3 separate regions of the Homo sapiens genome follow, and regions 1 and 3 are each reported to be linked to region 2. Evidence: microRNA targets listed by miRTarBase, many of them from high-throughput screens and not tested one by one. Region 2 holds a microRNA gene; each other region holds the end of a gene's coding sequence.

What was found. Region 2 holds the annotated microRNA hsa-miR-6886-5p (CCCGCAGGUGAGAUGAGGGCU, at 2,224-2,244, shown strand). A microRNA usually pairs through its seed, bases 2 to 8, with sites in the 3' UTR of a target mRNA and lowers its output. Matches are read on the target gene's strand: a 7mer-m8 pairs with bases 2 to 8, a 7mer-A1 pairs with bases 2 to 7 and ends in A, and an 8mer does both.
Region 1: miRTarBase lists STK40 as a target of hsa-miR-6886-5p. Seed matches in the 3' UTR shown: 7mer-m8 at 2,510-2,516.
Region 3: miRTarBase lists ZFP91 as a target of hsa-miR-6886-5p. Seed matches in the 3' UTR shown: 7mer-m8 at 5,296-5,302.

The regions. Positions count from the first base shown.
Region 1 is chr1:36,335,269-36,342,555 of GRCh38, reverse strand. STK40 (serine/threonine kinase 40) reads left to right here. Exons shown (of 11, transcript NM_001282547.2): 11 at 583-2,928. The coding sequence ends at 801. Among named protein-coding and RNA genes, the nearest start is that of EVA1B, 15 kb to the right of the region's middle.
Region 2 is chr19:11,111,256-11,118,255 of GRCh38, forward strand. MIR6886 (microRNA 6886) reads left to right here and starts at 2,219; the gene lies at 2,219-2,279. It overlaps LDLR (low density lipoprotein receptor), which reads left to right. Exons shown (of 18, transcript NM_000527.5): 8 at 259-384; 9 at 2,023-2,194; 10 at 2,280-2,507; 11 at 4,839-4,957; 12 at 5,604-5,743.
Region 3 is chr11:58,616,181-58,623,446 of GRCh38, reverse strand. ZFP91 (ZFP91 zinc finger protein, atypical E3 ubiquitin ligase) reads right to left here. Exons shown (of 11, transcript NM_053023.5): 10 at 6,632-6,731; 11 at 1,897-6,251. The coding sequence ends at 5,741. It overlaps CNTF (ciliary neurotrophic factor), which reads right to left and starts at 782. Exons shown (of 2, transcript NM_000614.4): 1 at 581-782. The coding sequence starts at 694. It overlaps ZFP91-CNTF (ZFP91-CNTF readthrough (NMD candidate)), which reads right to left. Exons shown (of 13, transcript NR_024091.1): 10 at 6,632-6,731; 11 at 5,879-6,251; 12 at 581-681.

The DNA.
Region 1 (7,287 bases), not on the chromosome of region 2:
AACAGGGTTAGAGAGGACTTTCCCAAAGCCACACAGCTTAGAAGTAGTGGAGCTAAGCCTTGAACCCAAGTCTCATCCGGAAGCCCTGCTGTCTCCTGTGGTGACTGGCACGGGGACACCACTTCAGCTTCTGTTACCATCTGCCTAGACCATCCCAGGGAGCTCAGCATGGGGCCCTGCGTATGTGGCTCCTCCAGGTGCTGCGCCCCCAGCCCAGGGCTTGCTCGTACCTCTTGACGTGCATTAGCCGCCTCAGGGCTCAGAGAACCTTTGCGAGGGGCCAGACAGCTAAGGCTTCTGAGGTAAAGTGACCTCTCACGCAGCCAGTGAGTTAGGAAGCATGAGTCTGCGTCAGTCCCGGGTCCGCAGGGCGGCCTGCAAGGGGAGTTGAGGTTGGCTGGAGGGGGTCAGGGACCCACCCTCAGCGCCACTCCCACCCCCGGCCTTGAGGCCTGAGGGTGTGGTGCCTGGAAGGGTGACTGCAGGAGCCAGGCTGCCAGCACTCTTGCCTGCCCTCCTGTCTGCTGCGCTGCCTTCATCTGGGTTTATCTTTGTCTCCTTCCCACCCTCCCCGCCTCAAAGGCGAAGGTGACGGAGGAGTGCTCCCAGTACGAGTTTGAGAACTACATGCGTCAGCAGCTGCTGCTGGCCGAGGAGAAGAGCTCCATCCATGACGCCCGGAGCTGGGTACCCAAGCGGCAGTTCGGCAGCGCACCACCGGTGCGACGGCTGGGCCACGACGCACAGCCCATGACCTCCTTGGACACGGCCATCCTGGCGCAGCGCTACCTGCGGAAATAACAGCCTCAGCCGGGGCCACCAGCACTGCTGCCACTTCTTCCAGCCCCAGCCAAAGGCGTGGCTGTCAGGGCTGGGCCCTGTAGTGCTGGACTCTCCCGGGCCACAATAGGGACAGGGCAGGGACAGGGACAGCCCAGGTCACACGTGGGGTCAGCAGAGGTACCACGAAGCTACCTTTTGGGATGATTGCTCGATTGTTTGGTTTTTAAATCTGAGAAGCCTAGATAACTAATCTGCTTTTAATCACGATGTTTTAATCTACCTCTGTCTCTTTAACCATGCTGTCTCTGGACTGAGCAAGAGGGAGGAGGGAGCCTGCTCACCCCACTCCAGGGCCTTCCCCAGCGGCCACCAACTGACCTGGGGCGCTGCTCCCCACAGTCCAAATAAGCTGAAAGTGCAGCTCGCTGCAGGCCCCAGAGCGAGCTTCCCCTCCTCCCTGCTCTCCCAGGCCCCTGCCACAGCCTCTTTCCGTCCCTCTCTTTCTGATCCAGGCCCCTCAGTCCAAGCTTTGGAAAACCTTCACCTCATCTTAAACCGAACTCAAATATATTTATTTTTTTACCATACCAACTTCTCTCCCATCTCTAGGTGGCTCAGTCCATGGCCACTCCCTGCCCCCAGCCTGGCTGGACAGCAAGGAATCCACAGCCCACACGTGAGCTCCCTCCTCACCCCCAGGCAGGGAAGCCCCTCCTGCCAGTCCCTGTCCCCTTTCAGCCCACCAGTCCCTCTCTGCTGCCGGTGATGGGAGGCCTTTCTAGACCTGGCTCTTTCTCTCCCGTCTCAGTGGCTTCTCTGAGGTGCTGTACACGCGCGTTAACCTGTTCCCTTCTCTATCCTTCCCCGTGGTACTGAGCTCACGTGGACTCCCAGTGCGAAGGGGCCCATGGGTTGGGCTGCAGGCCTGGCCGTGAGCGGGGGCTGCCTGCACGCTCCCCTAGCCTACTCTTGTGTTTAGGGGATGGTGGGAACATATCCCAGTGCCCTTGCCTCATAATAGATGTGGTGACTCTCCCGGTAGACCCTAGCAAGGGTCCTCCATGGTGGTGAGGGACTCAGGAGAATTGTAGGGATTGGGGGACCCTGCCTGCCTGGCTTGAGAACAGCCCTGCTGCCCTTTTGAGCCGAGATTTTGAAGTGGATGCCCGTCTTGCCAGAAATGCTGTTCTCACCAGAATGCCCCCTCCCCTTGCCCTTACTGGACTTGGCCCTGCCTGATGCCAAGCAAAGACCCTTCCCCAGAGGCCTACCCCCCATATGTCCTCAGAGAGGCTGAGTGTCCCCTCCAGGCAGTCATGGGCCCTGAGGCCCCTCCTGCCTGGCCCTGCTCCCCAGTGGGGAGGTGACTGTGTTTCCCAGAGTGTGAGCCGCTCTCCTCCCCCTAAAAAGCTGACTCACTGTGAGTGACCTTGGGCAAGTTCCCAAACCTCCTTGTGCCTCAGTTTCCCCATCTGGAAAAAATGGGGCCACCTCTTGCCAGCAGTAGCAGGGCTGCCCACGCCCCTTTCTCCCCATGCCCCATCCAGCACTTGGGCGACTCATGCCTCTGCCTCAGTGGGCCTGTGGGAGCCTACTGGAGCCCAGCACTTACTCCCCCTGAGCAGCGAGCCTGCGTCTGTCTCAGCTGTCCAGCGCTGAGGGCCAGGGTCTTGTGCTGTGGGGCTGGGGGATGCCCTCTTTTCTATATTTATTTCATAGAAAGTCTCCTGCGGGAGCGGAAATGCAGTCCGGCCTAGGGCTCCCAGCCCTTGACTGTCCTCCTGTGAGGGCCTGAAGCTGGGCCAGGGCCCGTCGCAGCGGAGCCCCCTCTCAGCAGCCCACCGGGTCCCTCCAGGCTGCTGCCCGTGCGTGGTCTTTCTCCTCCTTTTCAAAGCAATAGCCGCCGGGTCTGCAAAGCCCTGTCAGACAGACTGGGCCCTTCCAAGGTCAAGCCATGTGTCTGATGACATTCCTGGTGAAGCAAAGGAGAGGAGGATGGGTCAGCCCTCACTGGGTGTCACACACTGAGAGAAGTCCTATTGTAAAGAAACGGAAAAAGTCACAAAAAAGTTTGTATAAAGACATATTTTTGTACTACATGGGGACTCTTCCTGCATGTCAGCAATAAAACTTCCTGATCTGGAACCACTGTGGCCTGCGTCTCCTGCCTTCTTGCCTTCCCTGCCTACATCTCGGCCTCTCCAGCCCCGACCCAGCCCCATCCCTCTCCATCCCAGCTGAGTGGTGCAGGATTCCCAACTGGCTTCCTGCAGCTCTGAGTGTGCCCCCTCCCTGCTCCCCGCAGCCAGCGGGTGGCACCTGGCACCACTGTCTTGGCGGGGGAGGGGAACCTGAAGTGCCCAGCAGTCTCTTGAGACCTGTGCATCTGCCCACTGCCCAAGTGAGAGCTCCCTGCTTGGCTTGGCTCACCCTCTGACCTTGCATGCAGGAGGCAGCGGGGCATCCCAGCACCACAGCAGCTGAAGGGTATTGATCCTCTCTGCTGAACTCCATCTGGGGTAGGGGAGCCTGCTGCCCCAGACAGACTGCCCATGTGCCCATCCAGGGCAGCCAGGGAAGGAGAAGGCCCAGCCAGGCCTCTTCCTGCTCCACCCTCCCCCTCCCTCTCCTCAATAGGAAGCCAAGGGCTTCCTTCCTTCCTTTCTTTCCTTCCTTCCTTTGCTTAAATTTAGACTTTGGGCCGGGCACGGTGGTTCATGCCTGTCATCCTAGCACTTTGGGAGGCCGAAGCGGGTGGATCATGAGGTCAGGAGTTCAAGACCAGCCTGGCCAAGATGGTGAAACCCTGTCTCTACCAAAAATACAAAAATTAGCCAGGCATGGTGGCAGGTGCCTGTAATCCCAGCTATTCAGGAGGCTGGGGCAGAGAATTGCTTGAACCCGGGAGGTGGAGGTTGCAGTGAGCCGAGATCACGCCACTGCACTCCAAGCCTGGGCAATGGAGTGAGACTCCATCTCAAAAAAGAAAAAAAATTTAGACTTTGCAGATTGCACTTCATTCTAGCAATGAAGCTAGAGGTAGGCTGGCCCCTCCCCCGGCACACCACAGCACCCACGCGGACACACTTCTGTGTCCAGGAGCCCATACCCAGGCCACTCAAGGAACAAGATCTGTGCAGGCAGAGCCCCTTCCCAGTCAAGGGTCCACAGACCAAGAGGGGCACCTCCAAGATGTGAGAAGGCTCTGATCCTCTGCAGTGCTTCAGAGCACAGCCCCAGGCCCCTCACTCCTCCACCTCACAGTTCCACACCTGCCCCAGCAGCCAGCTGTCCAAAGATTTTGCCCATTACATTTGGCCCATGCCTTACCCATCCTGGATGCTCTGCTGGGAGGTGCCCCTGCTCCCAGCCCACCAGTGCCACTCTCAGCTCTGGACCTTGTCTCTATGTTCAGCCTCACTCCTGTCCCGCCACCCATTAAGCCTCTGTTCAGGGCACAGATACCTCCTGGACACCTACACGTGTCACTCTTACATTCAGCAAAACACTAGACAGCAAGCGCCCTACAGGCAGGGGCTTCGTTTTGCTCACCCTTACCTCCTCAGCACCTGGGTCTGGGCCTGTACACTCTGGCACTCCTGAACAGTTTGGTGTATTGATCTAAACTGTTTCTTGGCTGTGAGTTGGTCAATTTAACGAAAACAAAAGTGAACTTCTTGGATCGCTGTTCCTCACAGGTTTCACTATGAGCCCTGTGGCAGCAAAGGAAAAAGAAAGTACCAGAAGGATGGGTGGGACCAGTGCGGCCACACTGACCACTCGCGTGCTCCTGAAAGGTCAAACCAAATGAGAACTGCGAAGCTGGCATCCCCTTTGGCCACCCTGGTCTCCAGTGTCCCTGGGAAGAGCCAGGGACACTGGCTGGACCTGTCAAACTAGCAGAAGTGGAAAGGGAGTGAGGAATGGTCTTGGTGGCTGGATTGTTCAGGCTCTGAAGCCAAGTTGGCCTGACTTTCTCTGTCCCTCCGTCCCTCCTTCCCTCCCTCCCTCTCATCCTTCTCTCTCACACCCCATGTCCAATCCACTGCTACTCCTGTTGGCTGGCCCTACCTTCAGAACACGGGCAGAATCTGACCATTTGTCACAGCTCCACTGCAACCACCCTAAGCCTCCATCTCTGGCCTCCTGGTCTCCCACTCTTCCCCTGCCACAGTCCAGGCACCACGTGGTAGCCAGAGTGAGCCTTTAAAAACCTGACTGTGTCCCTCTTCTGTTTACAACCCTCTGATGGCTTACCCTCCATGCAGGAGAAAATCCAAAGGTCTGTGTGGCTTGTAAGGCTCTACACCATGAGTCTGCACACTTGGGTACCTCCCCACCTTCTCAGCCCTTCACCCCTCACTCTATTCCTGCTGCTTGGGCCCCCTGATCCTGAACAAGCCAAGCATGCTTCCACCGCACGGCCTCTGTGTAAGGTTAGCCGAGAGAAAGGATGAGTAGGCTCAAAGTCAGGTAAGCAATTTTTATTCGTCCTGCCAGGCTGCTCCTTGACAGGCAGAGGAGGCAGCCCCACTTACAGACTGCAGCAGGGCTTTACAGGGCGAGGAACTGGGTCGGGGTGTGTGAACCGAGTTGGGGGTGCAGGTGTCTTGACTGCGTCCTGGAGATAGTTTTGCCAGCTTTGGTTAGCAGGTGTTCTGACCGCATCTTGGAACTGTCTGCCAGTTCAGCTGAAGTCTTCTGGACAAACAGTTACTCTCGAAGGGTCAGTTGTGGCGGGGGGTTTGCCTTTAGCCCTGGGGGAGCTATGCGGAGGTCACAAAGGACTGTATTGTAAGACCTTTGCGAAAGGAGGAGAACAGTCTGGTCGGGGTGACCCTAACATTCCAGCTTTTAATAGTTGATAGAAAAGGGGGCGTTGTTCTCATCAGGCTGCTTCTAGCTGAGAGGGAGCGGTGGTTAGGGGGAGAGGCTGGAAGGTAGGGGTTGGTTTGGGTTCTGGCTTTGAAATTGTTGGTATTCTTGGAGTAGCATCATGTCTTGTATGGTTCTGTGGATGAAGGCTCGGATGCGCTTCTGTAAAAACTGGGTAAAGAGACCGGGCGCCGTGGCTCACGCCTGTAATCCCAACACTTTGGGAGGCCGAGGCAGGTGGATCACGAGGTCAGGAGATCGAGACCATCCTGGCTAACGCGGTGAAGCCCCGTCTCTACTAAATATACAAAAAATTAGCCAGACATAGTGGCGGGCACCTGTAGTCCCAGCTACCTGGGAGGCTGAGGCAGGAGAATGGTGTGAACCCAGGAGGCGGAGCTTGCAGTGGGCAGAGATTGCGCCACTGCACTCCAGCCTGGGTGCCAGAGCGAGACTCTGCCTCAAAAAAATAAAATAAAATAAAATAAATAAAAAATTAAGAAAACACTGGGTAAAGAGACATAAGAGGCAGGACCCAAAGATTAGAAGGAGAATGATTATGACAGGTCCAAGGAGTGGGAGTAGCCAGGAGGCCCAGGAGCTGAAGGGCCATAGGGGCCAGGAGGGCCAGGGGGAAGAACTGTTTTCCCTGATTTTTGAGCCCGGTCCTTTAATTTTTTAACTGCATCTTGAACCAGGCCTGACTGAAATAGAAGCAGCATTCTTCATCTAGGAAGACGCAGATACCTCCTTTTTCTGCGGTAAGTAAATCGAGGCCCCTGCGGCTTTGAAGACCTACTGCGGCTAGGGAGTCTAGTTGGGCCTGGAGGGTTGATACAGTGGATGCTAGGTCATCAGTGTTATCAGAGAGGTCCTTGGATAGGGATTTGTAGTAATAGGTAGAGGTTGCAATTCCTGCGACTCTAGTTCTTGCAGCTGCCATAATGCCTAACCCTATTAGCAGGGGTATAAGCTGTATGGCTCAGCGTCTGCGGGATAATGTTTGAATTTGGAAGGGTAAGGGTCTATCCCCAGGGGCTATGTCTATTTTTGGACTAAGGAAGACTAGCGTGCAGGTTCCTGTCCAGTTAGTGGGTAAGCAGAGCTAGGTGGAAGTGCCACAGAGAAAGAATATGCCCTGGCTAGGAAGGCAAAATTGGAGGTCTTTGGCAAAGAGGGGCTTTAGGATCTTGTTTTCTGATCGCCAAGCGGAGAGAGAGGAAGACAGGGCCGCCCCGGTGAGTGGTTGGAAGGGATGGGTTGAGGTTAGTTGGCTAGCCCTACTGTTTTGTTTTCCCAGTGTAGGAGGAAATATTATGTGTCCACTAAAAGTTTTTCCCCAGTGGGGGCTCTGGCTACCTGAGTTGTGGACAGTTGGAGGCTGGGCGGGGGCTAGGGCATGGAGTCCATCCTGCAATTATCATACAGGGTTTGTGTGGATTGATGCAGAAACCTGAGTTTATTGTGTTGAGATTAGTGGTTTGTATTTTTGGGGGACCAGAAATTTTGAGTATTTGAGTGGGATTGTATACTGTTAGCGGCTGGATACCAGCAGGTGGGCTGAGTTGTAGGGTGTAGTTACATGAGCCGGTGGGGAGAGTGCCTAAAGGGGTTCCTGAGGGAAGGTCG
Region 2 (7,000 bases):
AAAAGAAAAGAAAAGAAAAAAAAGAAAAGAAATTTCAGCTGACACAGCTTCACACTCTTGGTTGGGTTCCCGTGGTGAATGATGAGGTCAGGTGATGACTGGGGATGACACCTGGCTGTTTCCTTGATTACATCTCCCGAGAGGCTGGGCTGTCTCCTGGCTGCCTTCGAAGGTGTGGGTTTTGGCCTGGGCCCCATCGCTCCGTCTCTAGCCATTGGGGAAGAGCCTCCCCACCAAGCCTCTTTCTCTCTCTTCCAGATATCGATGAGTGTCAGGATCCCGACACCTGCAGCCAGCTCTGCGTGAACCTGGAGGGTGGCTACAAGTGCCAGTGTGAGGAAGGCTTCCAGCTGGACCCCCACACGAAGGCCTGCAAGGCTGTGGGTGAGCACGGGAAGGCGGCGGGTGGGGGCGGCCTCACCCCTTGCAGGCAGCAGTGGTGGGGGAGTTTCATCCTCTGAACTTTGCACAGACTCATATCCCCTGACCGGGAGGCTGTTTGCTCCTGAGGGCTCTGGCAGGGGAGTCTGCCGCCCTGTTAGGACTTGGGCTTGCCAGGGGGATGCCTGCATATGTCCTAGTTTTTGGGAATATCCAGTTAACGGAACCCTCAGCCCTACTGGTGGAACAGGAACCGGCTTTCCTTTCAGGGACAACCTGGGGAGTGACTTCAAGGGGTTAAAGAAAAAAAATTAGCTGGGCATGGTGCCACACACCTGTGGTCCCAGCTACTCAGAAGGCTGAGGCGGGAGGATTGCTTGAGGGCAGGAGGATTGGTTGATCCTCCCACCTCAGCCTCCGGAGTAGCTGGGACCTCAGGTGCATGCCACTATGCCTGGCTAATTTTCTTTTTTCTTTTTTTTTTTTTTTCGAGACGGAGTCTCGCTCTGTTGCCCAGGCTGGAGTGCAGTGGCAGGATCTCGGCTCACTGCAAGCTCCGCCTCCCGGGTTCACGCCATTCTCCTGCCTCAGCCTCCCCAGTAGCTGGGACTACAGGAGCCCGCCACTGCACCAGGCCAATTTTTTTGTATTTTTAGTAGAGACGGGGTTTCACTGTGTTAGCCAGGATGGTCTCGATCTCCTGACTTCGTGATCCGCCCACCTCGGCCTTCCAAAGTGCTCGGATTACAGGCGTGAGCCACTGCGCCCAGCCGCTAATTTTCATATTTTTAGTAAAAACAGGGTTTCACCATGTTGGCCAGGCTAGTCTTGAACTCCTGAACCCAAGTGATCCTCCTGCCTTGGCCTCCCAAAGTGCTGGGATTACAGACACCACACCTGGCTATTATTATTTTTTAGAGACAGGGTGCTGCTCTATCTTCCAGCCTGTAGTGCAGTGCAGCCTCCATCATAGCTCGCTGCAGCCTTGACCTCCTGGGTTCACGTGATCGTCCCGCCTAAGCCTCTGGAGGAGCTGGGAGTACTGGCATGTGCCACCATGCCTGGTTAATTTTTTTTTTTTTTTTTTTGAGACAGAGTCTCATTCTGTCACCCAGGCTGGAGTGCGGTGGTGCGATCTTGGCTTACTGAAACCTCCACCTCCCAGGTTCCAGCAATTCTCCTGCCTCACCCTTCTGAGTAGCTGGGATTACAGGTTCCGGCTACCAAACCTGGCTAGTTTTTGTATGTTTAGTAGAGACAGGGTTTCACCATGTTGGTGAGGCTGGTCTCGATTCTCCCGCCTCAGCCTCCCAAAGTGCTGGGATTACAGGCTTGAGCCACCGTGCCTGGCTTTTTTTTTTTTTTTTTTTTTTGTGGCAATAAGGTCTCATTGTCTTGCCCAGGCTAGCCTTATGCTCCTAGCCTCAAGTGATCCTCCTCCCTCAGCCTCCCAAAGTGCTGGGATTACAGGTGGGCGCCACTGTGCCTGTTCCCGTTGGGAGGTCTTTTCCACCCTCTTTTTCTGGGTGCCTCCTCTGGCTCAGCCGCACCCTGCAGGATGACACAAGGGGATGGGGAGGCACTCTTGGTTCCATCGACGGGTCCCCTCTGACCCCCTGACCTCGCTCCCCGGACCCCCAGGCTCCATCGCCTACCTCTTCTTCACCAACCGGCACGAGGTCAGGAAGATGACGCTGGACCGGAGCGAGTACACCAGCCTCATCCCCAACCTGAGGAACGTGGTCGCTCTGGACACGGAGGTGGCCAGCAATAGAATCTACTGGTCTGACCTGTCCCAGAGAATGATCTGCAGGTGAGCGTCGCCCCTGCCTGCAGCCTTGGCCCGCAGGTGAGATGAGGGCTCCTGGCGCTGATGCCCTTCTCTCCTCCTGCCTCAGCACCCAGCTTGACAGAGCCCACGGCGTCTCTTCCTATGACACCGTCATCAGCAGAGACATCCAGGCCCCCGACGGGCTGGCTGTGGACTGGATCCACAGCAACATCTACTGGACCGACTCTGTCCTGGGCACTGTCTCTGTTGCGGATACCAAGGGCGTGAAGAGGAAAACGTTATTCAGGGAGAACGGCTCCAAGCCAAGGGCCATCGTGGTGGATCCTGTTCATGGGTGCGTATCCACGACGCTGAGGGCTGCAGAGGGAATGGAGGGAGCAGGAAGGAGCTTCAGGAACTGGTTAGTGGGCTGGGCATGGTGGCTCAAAGCACCTGTAATCCCAGCACTTTGGGAGGCCAAGGTGGGTGGATCATCAAGACCAGCCTGACCAACATGGTGAAACCTCGTCTCTACTAAAAATACAAAAATTAGCCGGGTGTGGTGGTGGGCACCTGTAATCCCAGCTGCTCGGGAGGCTGAGGCAGGAGAATCACTTGAACCTGGGAGATGGAGGTTGCAGTGAGCCAAGACAGCCCCACTGCACTCCAGCCTGGGTGACAGAGTGAGACTCCGTCTCAAAAAAAAAAAAAAAAACTAAACAAAAAACTGGTTAGTGGCTAGACAACAGGATGGTATCTTCCAAGCCCATGGCTGACTCAGCAGCTCCTGGGTCAAGACACTGTGACCTGTGTCCCCTGGCAGGAAGCATCGCCCCTGCCACCTGCCCGGTGTACTCTGTACCTGTCAGGTGACATCTGCTACCTAAGCACGTGAGAGGTGGCATTTCACAGTTTCAGTGTGGTGCTGACAACCCGGGACGCACACTGTCCTTGCAGCTACAATCAGGAGGTGAATGTTGGGTTTCCAGCAGAGAACACTGGAGAAGGCACACTTGGTGTCTGGAAGGGAAAAGCAGGGAAGAGAGCATCATCAGATGCCTGCGGGTGAAGGTGGGCCCGCTATGGCCAGCGTCCCTTTTTATTTTTATTTATTTATTTATTTGAGATGGAATCTCGCTCTGTCGCCCAGACTGTAGTGCAGTGGTGCGATCACGGCTCACTGCAAGCTCCGCCTCACAGGTTCACGCCATTCTCCTGCCTCAGCCTCCCGAGTAGCTGGGACTACAGGCACCCGCCACCACGCCCGGTTAATTTTTTGCATTTTTATTAGAGACGGGGTTTCACCGCGTTAGCCAGGATGGTCTAAATCTCCTGACCCTGTGATCCACCCGCCTCGGCCTCCCTAAGTGCTTGGATTACAAGCGTGAGCCACCACGCCCGGCCCCCTTTTTATTTTTTATTTTTTGAGACGGAGTCTCGCTCTGTCGCCCAGGCTAGATTGCAGTGGCGTGATCTCGGCTCACTGCAGCCTCCGCCTCCCAGGTTCAAGTGATTCTCCTGCCTCAACCTCCCAACTAATTAGGATTACAAGCATGTACCACCATGCCTGACTAATTTTTTGTATTTTTAGTAGAGACTGGGTTTCACCATGTTGGCTAGGCTGGTCTCGAACCCTTAGCCTCAAGTAATCTGCCTGCCTCAGCCTCCCAAACAGCGGGGATTACAGGCATGAGCCACTGTGCCCAACCCAACCCTGGATCTCTTTTAAACAAGACAATGCTCGCTGTTGCCACAGAACAATGGGTGGGGTACATGTGGCCCAGTGTGTTTGGCCACATAACTGCCAGGCCAGAGGGAAAGAGACTCTCAGACTGTCTCCACTCAGATACAAATGTGTGTGTTGTGTGCGTGTGTTCTGGTCTCATATTTGTTTGTTTTGAGACAGGGTGTCGCTCTGTCACTGAGTCTGGAGTGCAGTGGCGCAATCAGAGTTCACTGCAGCCTCAAACTCTTGGGCTCAGTTGATTCTCCCACTTCAGCCTCCCAAGTAGCTGGAACTACAGGTGAACACCACTGTGCCCAGCTAATTTATTTTATTTTTAGTAGAGATGAGGTCTCACTATGTTGCCCAGGCTGGTCTTGACCTCCTAGCCTCAAGCAATCCTCCTGCCTTGGTCTCCCAAAGTGCTGGGATTACACGTGCGAGCCATTGCGCATGGCTTGTGTTCTTGTGTTTCTTCCTTTTTCTTTCGAGATGGCGTCTCAGTCTGCCACCCAGGCTGGAGTGCAGTGGTGTGATCATAGCTCACTGTAGCCTCAACTTCCTGGGCTCAAGCAATCCTCTTGATTTCAGCCTCCCGGGCCTGGCCAGCATGGTGAAACCCCGTCTCTACTAAAAATACAAAAATGTAGCCAGGCGTGGTGGTGGGCGCCTGTAATCCCAGCTACACCAGAGGCTGAGGCAGGAGAATCGCTTGAGCCTGGAAGGTGGAGGTTGCAGCAAGCCAAGATCGTGCCACTGCACTCCAGCCTGGGCAACAGAGACAGACTCTGTCTCAAAAAAAAAAAAAAAAAACCCAAACAAGCCACATTTGGAGTTTGGGGTTCCCAGCAGGACTATTTCCCAAGCCTGAGCCTGGCTGTTTCTTCCAGAATTCGTTGCACGCATTGGCTGGGATCCTCCCCCGCCCTCCAGCCTCACAGCTATTCTCTGTCCTCCCACCAGCTTCATGTACTGGACTGACTGGGGAACTCCCGCCAAGATCAAGAAAGGGGGCCTGAATGGTGTGGACATCTACTCGCTGGTGACTGAAAACATTCAGTGGCCCAATGGCATCACCCTAGGTATGTTCGCAGGACAGCCGTCCCAGCCAGGGCCGGGCACAGGCTGGAGGACAGACGGGGGTTGCCAGGTGGCTCTGGGACAAGCCCAAGCTGCTCCCTGAAGGTTTCCCTCTTTCTTTTCTTTGTTTTTTCTTTTTTTGAGATGAGGTCTTGGTCTGTCACCCAGGCTGGAGTGCACTGGCGCAATCGTAGCTCACTGCAGCCTCCACCTCCCAGGCTCAAGTGATCCTCCTGCCTCACCCTCCTGAGTAGCTGAGATTACAGACACGTGCCACCACGGCAGACTAATTTTATTTTATTTTTGGGAAGAGACAAAGTCTTGTTATGTTGGCCTGGCTGGTCTCAAACTCAGGGTGCAAGCGATCCTCCCGCCTCAGCCTTCCAAACTGCTGGGATTACAGGCGTGGGCCACCGTACCCAGCCTCCTTGAAGTTTTTCTGACCTGCAACTCCCCTACCTGCCCATTGGAGAGGGCGTCACAGGGGAGGGGTTCAGGCTCACATGTGGTTGGAGCTGCCTCTCCAGGTGCTTTTCTGCTAGGTCCCTGGCAGGGGGTCTTCCTGCCCGGAGCAGCGTGGCCAGGCCCTCAGGACCCTCTGGGACTGGCATCAGCACGTGACCTCTCCTTATCCACTTGTGTGTCTAGATCTCCTCAGTGGCCGCCTCTACTGGGTTGACTCCAAACTTCACTCCATCTCAAGCATCGATGTCAACGGGGGCAACCGGAAGACCATCTTGGAGGATGAAAAGAGGCTGGCCCACCCCTTCTCCTTGGCCGTCTTTGAGGTGTGGCTTACGTACGAGATGCAAGCACTTAGGTGGCGGATAGACACAGACTATAGATCACTCAAGCCAAGATGAACGCAGAAAACTGGTTGTGACTAGGAGGAGGTCTTAGACCTGAGTTATTTCTATTTTCTTCTTTCTTTTTTTTTTTTTTTTTGAGACAGAGTTTTGCTCTCGTTTCCCAGGCTGGAGGGCAATGGCATGATCTCGGCTCACCGCAACCTCCACCTCCCAGGTTCAAGTGATTCTCCTGTCTCAGGCTCCCCAGTAGCTGGGATTACAGGCATGCACCACCACCATGCCCGGCTAATTTTGTATTTTTAGTAGAGACGGAGTTTCTCCATGTTGGTCAGGCTGGTCTCGAACTCCCGACCTCAGGTGATCTGCCTGCCTCGGCCTCCCAAAGTGCTGGGATTACAGACTTGAGCCACCGCGCCCAGCTATTTCTGTTTTCTTTCTTTCTTCTTCTTCTTTTTTTTTTTCTAAGAGACAGGATCTCACTCTGTCCCCAGGCAGGAGTGCAGTGCTGTGATCATAGCTCACTGCAGCCTTAACCTCCTGGGCTCAAGTGATCTTCCCACCTCAGCCTCCCAAGTAGCTGGAACTACAGGTGCACACCACCATGCCCAGCTCATTTTTGTATTTTTTTTTTTTTTGAGACAGTCTCGTTCTGTCACCCCGGCTGGAGTGCAGTGGTACAATCTTGGCTCACTGCAACCTCTGCCTCCCAGGTTCAAGCGATTCTCCTGCCTCAGCCTCCTGAGTAGTTGAGATTACAGGCATGTGTGCCATCATACCTGGCTGATTTTTGTATTTTTTTTTAGAGATGGGGTCTCAGTATGTTGACCAGGCTTGTCTTAAACTCCCGGCCTCAAGTGATCCTCCCACTTCAGTCTCCCAAAGTGCTGGGATTACAGGCATGAGCCACTGCGGCCGGTTTGTTTTCTTTTTTTTTTCGTTTTTTGGAGACGGAATTTCACCTTTGTTGCCCAGGATGGAGTGCAATGGCACGATATCGCCTCACCACAACCTCTGCCTCCTGGGTTCAAACCATTTTCCTGCCTCAGCCTTCTTAGTAGCTGGGATTACAAGCATGTGCCACCACGCCCGGCTGATTTTGTATTTTTAGTAGAGATGGGGTTTCTCCATGTTGGCCAGGCTGGTCTCGAACTCCTGACCTCAGGTCATTCGCCCACCTCTGCCTCCCAAAGTGCTGGGATTACAGGCGTGAGCCACCGTGCCCGGTGGTTTGTATTC
Region 3 (7,266 bases), not on the chromosome of region 2:
AACTCCAGAATTAGCTCAAGAATTTGACACTTCCACAAGTTTCCAATGAATCTTCTAGGAGATCCTTTTGATAGCTTACCTTTCTCTTTAGACACAATCTACTTTTGATGCAGAATACTAAAAGGTGGGTGGCTAATGCTATATAGGAGAAATTGGTAGGATTTACAAATTCCTCCCACGTTCATAGTACTCTTCCTATCCCATAAACCTTTCATTTACATAGCTAAAAAATTCAGAACAATGGCTATGAAGAACCCAGAGGGCCCATGGCTAATCTGTTCTAGTAGTATTCAGAATATATGCCAATAAATTTGGAATAGCCTCCAAGACATATAAACCAATCCTTTCTAGAACTCCATATATATTTTCTCATTCAAGTAACTTCATCTCCTAAACAGCCCAGAGGAAGAAAATAAAGTCACATGGGTTTCCTCAAGGGAAGGGCCCATGTCAAATAACCTATATGAATGACTATATGATTAGAGCTTTCACAATTGGTAATGGAGCTGATGCGTGATGGTAAGTTGCTGGATCAAAAAAGATGAAGGGAAAACAGATAACAGCAAAATAGGCAACTTACATAGGATTCCGTAAGAGCAGTCAGGTCTGAACGAATCTTCCTTGCTAGCCAGATAGAGCGGCTACAGAGGTCCCGACGGTGAGGGGTCAGCGGTGAATGCTCTGTGAAAGCCATCCCTTAACTCAACTGTCCCAGGAAACAAGTCAGCTGGGTTTACTTCTGTCTATACTGGTCCAAATAAGAGATGTGACTCTCAAAGACTAAACCCACTGGGCATTCTCTACTAATGGGATTGTGCACCCCACCCCCACGCCCTGCCTGACTCAGAGGAGGTAGCAAATTCCTGGCTGTGGATTTTTGTGCCTGTGGAATCAAAGGGCCCTTTTTAATCAGATTTTTTTTCCCCTGCAGCGTCTGCCTCCATCTCTCTCCTCCACTCAGTACTTAGCACACTTGTTTCTATGTCATTGTTTTGCTTTTGCACTTAGCAACAAGGTCACTATCATACCAATCCTCATGGCACCCCTGCCTAATGTAATCTATCTCACACACTTAGAATTAGTTCATTTTATTATCATTCTCCCTTATGCTTCCCATGTCTTTTTTCTCATAGGCTGGCGAAATGTTCATTCAATAAAATTGTTATTGACACAGCTGCCATTTATTAAGTATCTACCATGGGTCAGTCAGTAAGCTAAATACTTTAAAGCAATTCCATTTGATCTTCAGAATATTTCTGAGGTAAATGTTATTTCTCCATATAAGAAACTGAAACTTCAAGAAATAACATGCACAAAATCAAGTAACGAGGCTTGAATTTAAATAGAAGTCTGATTCTATAGTTGTCTCTCCCACTGACTTTCCAATTTCATTTTCTGTTTAGGTAGTTCACATCTTGTTCAAGAAACAAAGGGTGTGTGAAGTCCTTTAAAAACAGGATTTTTTTCACTCCTAACCTTACGTACTTTTTAAAGGTAATTTAATTTATACTTAAAAATCAAGCAAGGAAGCATCTCTAATTTCAATCACGGTGCCTTCCTGGTAGCTACATAGGAGGAGGAAGGTACTGTTTAGGCCTGTTCTCTTCCAAAGAACAGGAAACACCCAACGCTAACTTGGTAACATTTCTAAAGCAGTCTCACTCAAGTGACAACATGCTTTCCTTTTTTCTCCCCTACCCAGTCATACCACATGCTTCTTAAAATAAGAGAATGAGCTGGGCTTTGAAATGACAGTATAAAAGTTAAAAGGTACTTGGAGGGTTGTCATTCTATTGCATTTAACTTAGAAAATGATGCTTATTGGGTAAGGGCTAAATGAAATAATTAGCTTTCATTATTTATATCATAGATATTGCCAATAAGCTGAAACACATACCATCTTAGAAGCAAATTTATAAAAGTAAACAATAAATGGGAGATGTAACAGAGCAGCCTGGGCAGCTATCACAGCATGGCTTTTGGAAGGCAGAAGGATTATAGTTTTTTCTTTTTTAAAATAAAAATCAGTACTTGATATAAACATTCAATTTTGAGAAGAAGTATTAATATTAAATGCTATCAAGGTTTTGTCATTATCAGGGTAAAATTAACCTCACATAATCCTTAATTTTCCATCTACTAGGTTAATTAACATATGGCCAGTTTTCCTAGGAGGCAGTTGTCAAAACATCAAGATTTCCAAGTTTGCTGAATAACAGAATCATGTCATTTCAGCATTAGAAATCAAGAACAGTCAAAAATTAACCACCTGATTCTCAACAAAAGCAAACAATAGTATGCCCCACATAACACCTGTTCTGAGGGCATTTGGTTTGCTTAGCAGCATCACATGTTTCACCCCTAGGATAACTGTAACTCAGTACAACCAAGGAAGACAAGTTGCTTCCATGAAGACAACTTTTATTTTTCTTCTTTACATATTTATTTTTAATATGCCTTACCTAGAATAAGAGAAAACAAAGATTTGAAAAGCAAAGTATCCCTTTTATTATAATTTCTTTTTACATAACCTTTTCAACCTATATTCAGGTAACTACCTGTCTCTCCCATGAAAGGAGAAGGGTCCTGCACATTACAACAGGCAAAAAAGGCTTTTAAGAAATAAAATATTTTAAATTGATCCATTACATTTGTTCAATTTTCTTGAGTACATTGGAAAGTGGGAAAAACACAAAAGGAGAAAAAAATGGTATTTCAAACAACCAGACTATAATAATCTTAGTTAGATTGGTAGTACACTCATTATACTTTTTCCCCAAACAGGTACAAAGGAGGTTCAAGTGCTCTATGTGGATGCTAGTCTATACCTCGATATTTTTATTTTACTCCCAGTACTCCCACGGCCATGGCCAGTGTTTGCCTAAATTCTCTGAAGCATATCAAGGAGTCTCAGTTACGCAAAACAACCTTGGGCAACCACAAAGAAGAGGGATGCACATCTCCCAGAAATATTAAATAGCTGTATCTCAACTACAGTTTCAGAATTTAGAACCACCAATTCAAGATGGAAATATGCAGTGGGAAGAGTTATTAAAAAGGTAACAGAATTTGACTAAGAGCATGAAATGTAGAACTTTAAGATTAAAAGAGCTCCCTGGAAGGACAATGAGGCATATGGAGCAGAAGGGAAAGCAGGGAAACGGCTGAGATAGTTTAATTACACCAACTCTACTATGCAGCATCCCTTTATCAAAAGGAAAAATATAAAGTCTATAAAAAATATTTTAGTATTGCAAACTGCTGCAATAATTTATTGTAGGCAAATGGTAGCTATAAAGAGGGTCCTTGACCCCTAAAAGAAAAGAAAAAGTACAGCAAGTTTCTAATTAGTAGAACTAACTAGTTGTTTTTTTGTTGGGAGAGCGGTATAGGAAAGGAGAATACATTTTCTCCCATCTCAGAAAGATTTTTAAAAATGCAGTTTGCTTTTGTGTAGGTGGCTAAAATATCTGATGACTAACCACTGCAAATGAAATTTACGGAGACAAAGGATAAGTGTGACAAAAAAGCTAAGTGTGGAATATAGATGCTAGTTAGTCAAAAAGTGTAAAAGGGACCTGAGAGGAGGACAACTTTTTTGTAGATTCATCTAATCAATCTTGTATTTTCAAATCTAGTCAATATACCAAAGTCGACTCCAAACCATGTTGGCAGGAAAGCATATTCTACATCCCTTCTATCTTTATTCCATTTTCTATCCCCATATTATGGAGAAATGGCAAATCTGCAACACTCTGAAAAGAAACAATAGCGCATTTGAGACTGGTGATTGTAGGTGTCTCACTCTCTGTTCCCTGGCATCCCAAATGCTGACACTAGTTGGTATAAAGTAAGCCTCTTTCAGAAATGACATTTTGTTACTCCTCTTTTTGGGAAAAAAGAATTCTTTGAAAAAATTGATAAGCCATGTTTGTGAAACACAAACTGTTCTTTTTTTTTTTTCCAGCAAAACGTCATTCTTTCCAAGAGCCATCATGCATTTCTGACAATAAACAATGAATAGGGTAAGCCTTCGATTCTAGCTTCTGAGGCACACAGGATAGGAATTACTCTTTACCTGAAGATGAGCCAAAATAGGATTTGGGGCTTCTGGCGGTATGACCTTGTACAAAAACACTACCTTTTCTCTCCAGTGAACAGCAATAAGCAATCTATTCCCCAACACAACCTCTATCCCAAGGAAATTGTGATGCCCAGAATTTTAGGTGAAAGCCAAAGCAATTATTATATAGGATTATTAACTTTGGCTATTGAAGTTTTTCCTCTTCAGAAGTGTTACTAAAGGGGAAACAGAGCAGTTTTCTTTGACTTAAAATTTTAGGACTCATAGACTTTGTTCCTTCACTAACAGCAGTGTCCTTCACTAACAGGGAGCTGGAATGAACTGATAAAGCAAAGCAAGAAACAAAAAGCAAGGAGCCAGAGATGGGCCCCAAGGGAAATGTAAGGAAATGGTAGGGACAAAAAAAAAGGAAAAGAAACAAATTCACAAGAAACAATCATCTATCTGTAATTTAGATTCTGAACAACCCTCCTCACCCTCTCAAAATTCTTAAGTTTCAACACTGTAAAAATCTCAAAGAGCATACTAGTTACCATGAACCTAACATTCTTCCCTAAAAAGGCTTCCAAAAAAGCACTAGGCTATTGTAGTGATTTTGTTAGTGCTGAGGACCAGCTTTCTTTAAAAGCCACTGGAGAGCTATGATTTCAGAGGCTGGCTGTGCTTCTTCAACCCTATGTCTTGCCTTCAAAGTACCTGTTATGGAAGGGATCCCATGTCAAAATAATCTAATCTCTCTCTCCCAGCCCCACAAAATATAGCAACAAAGACTCCAAAAAAAAAAAATCAGACTTCCTGTTAATAAATAAGGAATCTCAGGTTCCACAACACAAAAACACACATGTTCAAAGTGCAAATTTCTGCCATTAGCCTGGGACTTTTCTCATCGTCTCACTGATACAGAGCCCTGTCTTACAGTCAAAGAGACTGTAGAGGGCAGCCCCCTCCCTATTGGGAGCCTGCTTCCAAGCAAGTGAGCACCATTGAGAGCCATATGGAGGGTTGGGAGGGGGACTGAGATGCTGGGATCAAAGAAGGGGGAGGTGGTCCCCATATATCCTTCCTTTCTGAAACCCAGGGGGGAATAAAGGAAGAGGGGATGAGAGATGTGTGCTGTTTTAACAGCTCACCCTGCTAAGGGGCCCTAAAGTGCCAAGTCAAGCTGCCAGCCTCCAGAGATTAGAATTCTATGGTATTTGAAGATAAGTGTGCCGCAGGGGGTAGGAGCCAGAACCATAGGGCAGCAGTAGAGGAGGAGAAGGGATTTAGAAGACAGTAATATATGATTAAAAGTTAAAAGCTGATCCAGAGCACATCAGAGTTACAGGTTGGAAAGGGGGATCTGCCGATGAGCAGGAAGTCTGCTGATGGCTGGAACCGAGTATGAGAATAACCCTCACTTTAAGAGCTGCTGCTGCTTCTTTTTTGTCTACCTTTCTGGTAAAGACAACATCAATTTTATAAGGGGAGCAACAGAGGGAGAACAGGGGATGGGGAGGTGGAGGGTGTATGTATGTGTGTGCTGTGATCCACAATGGAAAGAGCAGGCCCTTCAGTTATTTCACTAGATTTTAAATGCTTTAGATTTTTTTTTTGTCCTTTTTAACTTTTAAATACAAAGTCTGAGCTGTCCCATGCCCCAAGTCTTCCTGTCCACTAAGGTCCGGCAGAGTCTGAATCTTCAATCAGAACCTCTGTGGTAGCACCGAGTATATCTGAGTTCATAACCAGCCCTTCAGTGCCTCCACTGCTGCCGCTTCCCACAAAGATCTTCCCATCAGCCATCAGGCTCACCCGTTCCGTCCCACTGCAGTATGACTTTGACATCCCTTCAGCTTCTAACAGTAGGCACTCTCCAGAGGTTGAGTTTCCCAAGGGCTCAGGAAGAAGAGGAAGACCCTGACCATCTGAAGGCTGCGTCAGGGACTCTGGGTTAGTGCCCAAGATATCTGTGCTGGTGATGAGGGCGCCTGCATTGGCAGCCAGAGCTTCTGCAATCAGCACCTCAGGGTGGCTTTTTGCCTTGTGTGCCACTACGCTGTCCTTCTTCTCAAATTTTTTGCCACAGATATTGCAAGAAAACTGGTAGAAGGAGTCTGCATCATGTTTCTTCATGTGCCAATTAAGAGATGCCTTTTGTCGACAAGTAAATCCACAGATCTCACATCTAAGGAGAGGAGAAAAGGAAATGGCTGATCCAACAGAGAAATAAAGAGTGCTCTTATTCAGGATCAGGGTTAGAGTTTAGAGCATATATATACATACACACACACACACACACACACACACACAATAATCAGTAACATACTTCTTTTGAAGGATTGGGAAATGTTACTAGATGGAAAACTAATCTGATCTTCTTCTGTTTGCCTGAAAAACAGAGGGAAACTAAGAAAAAGGCTACTAACTAATGCCCCCAATCAATATCCACTCATTTATTTGATGAAAGTAAACAGCAGTGGCAACTAATATGTTTGTAAAGCGGCAAACCTTCAAGTAGGGCATATATCCTTCTCACCCAGATGTTCACCAGTAAATAATACTCACTGTAATGGCTTCTCGCCAGTGTGAATCATCCGGTGCACTGCCAGATTGTGGGAACTCTTGAAGGCCCGAGCACAATATTCACAGATATAATCCCTTTGATCTATGAAGAAAATACTGTGGTTAGTGTTCTATTTAGATACCCTGTAAATATTTTCCCTTACAGTAAGTAAGCAGATGATGGGGCAGGCAATTTAGAGTAAAAGCAATGCTGTTTTCAATGTATAAACACTTTGGGTAAACAAAATTTAAAAAAGAAAAGTATTGCTTTAAAAAAAATCCAACATTCAGTAGCATAAGGACCTGTTTAAAAAAAAACAAAAACAAACAGAAAAACTAGATAAAAATATAAGAAATGGAATCCTAATCTCAATTTTACCACTAATCCAGGTCTTGGATACCAAGTGGTTAGCAAGTAAACAACTATATTTTCCATATATTTTACTCCTTTAAGGAGTAAACAATTTTTTTCACAGACAATGAAAACTGAATGATTACACAGAAAGAATCTGGCATTCAAACAAAACAAAAACAAAAAACAAGAACTTGGCACTGTATAGAAGAAAACTGATCTAAAGGTAATCATACCCTGTTTCAGGTTTAAAAAATGTTACTCAAGATAAACTTTTCTCAAAAGA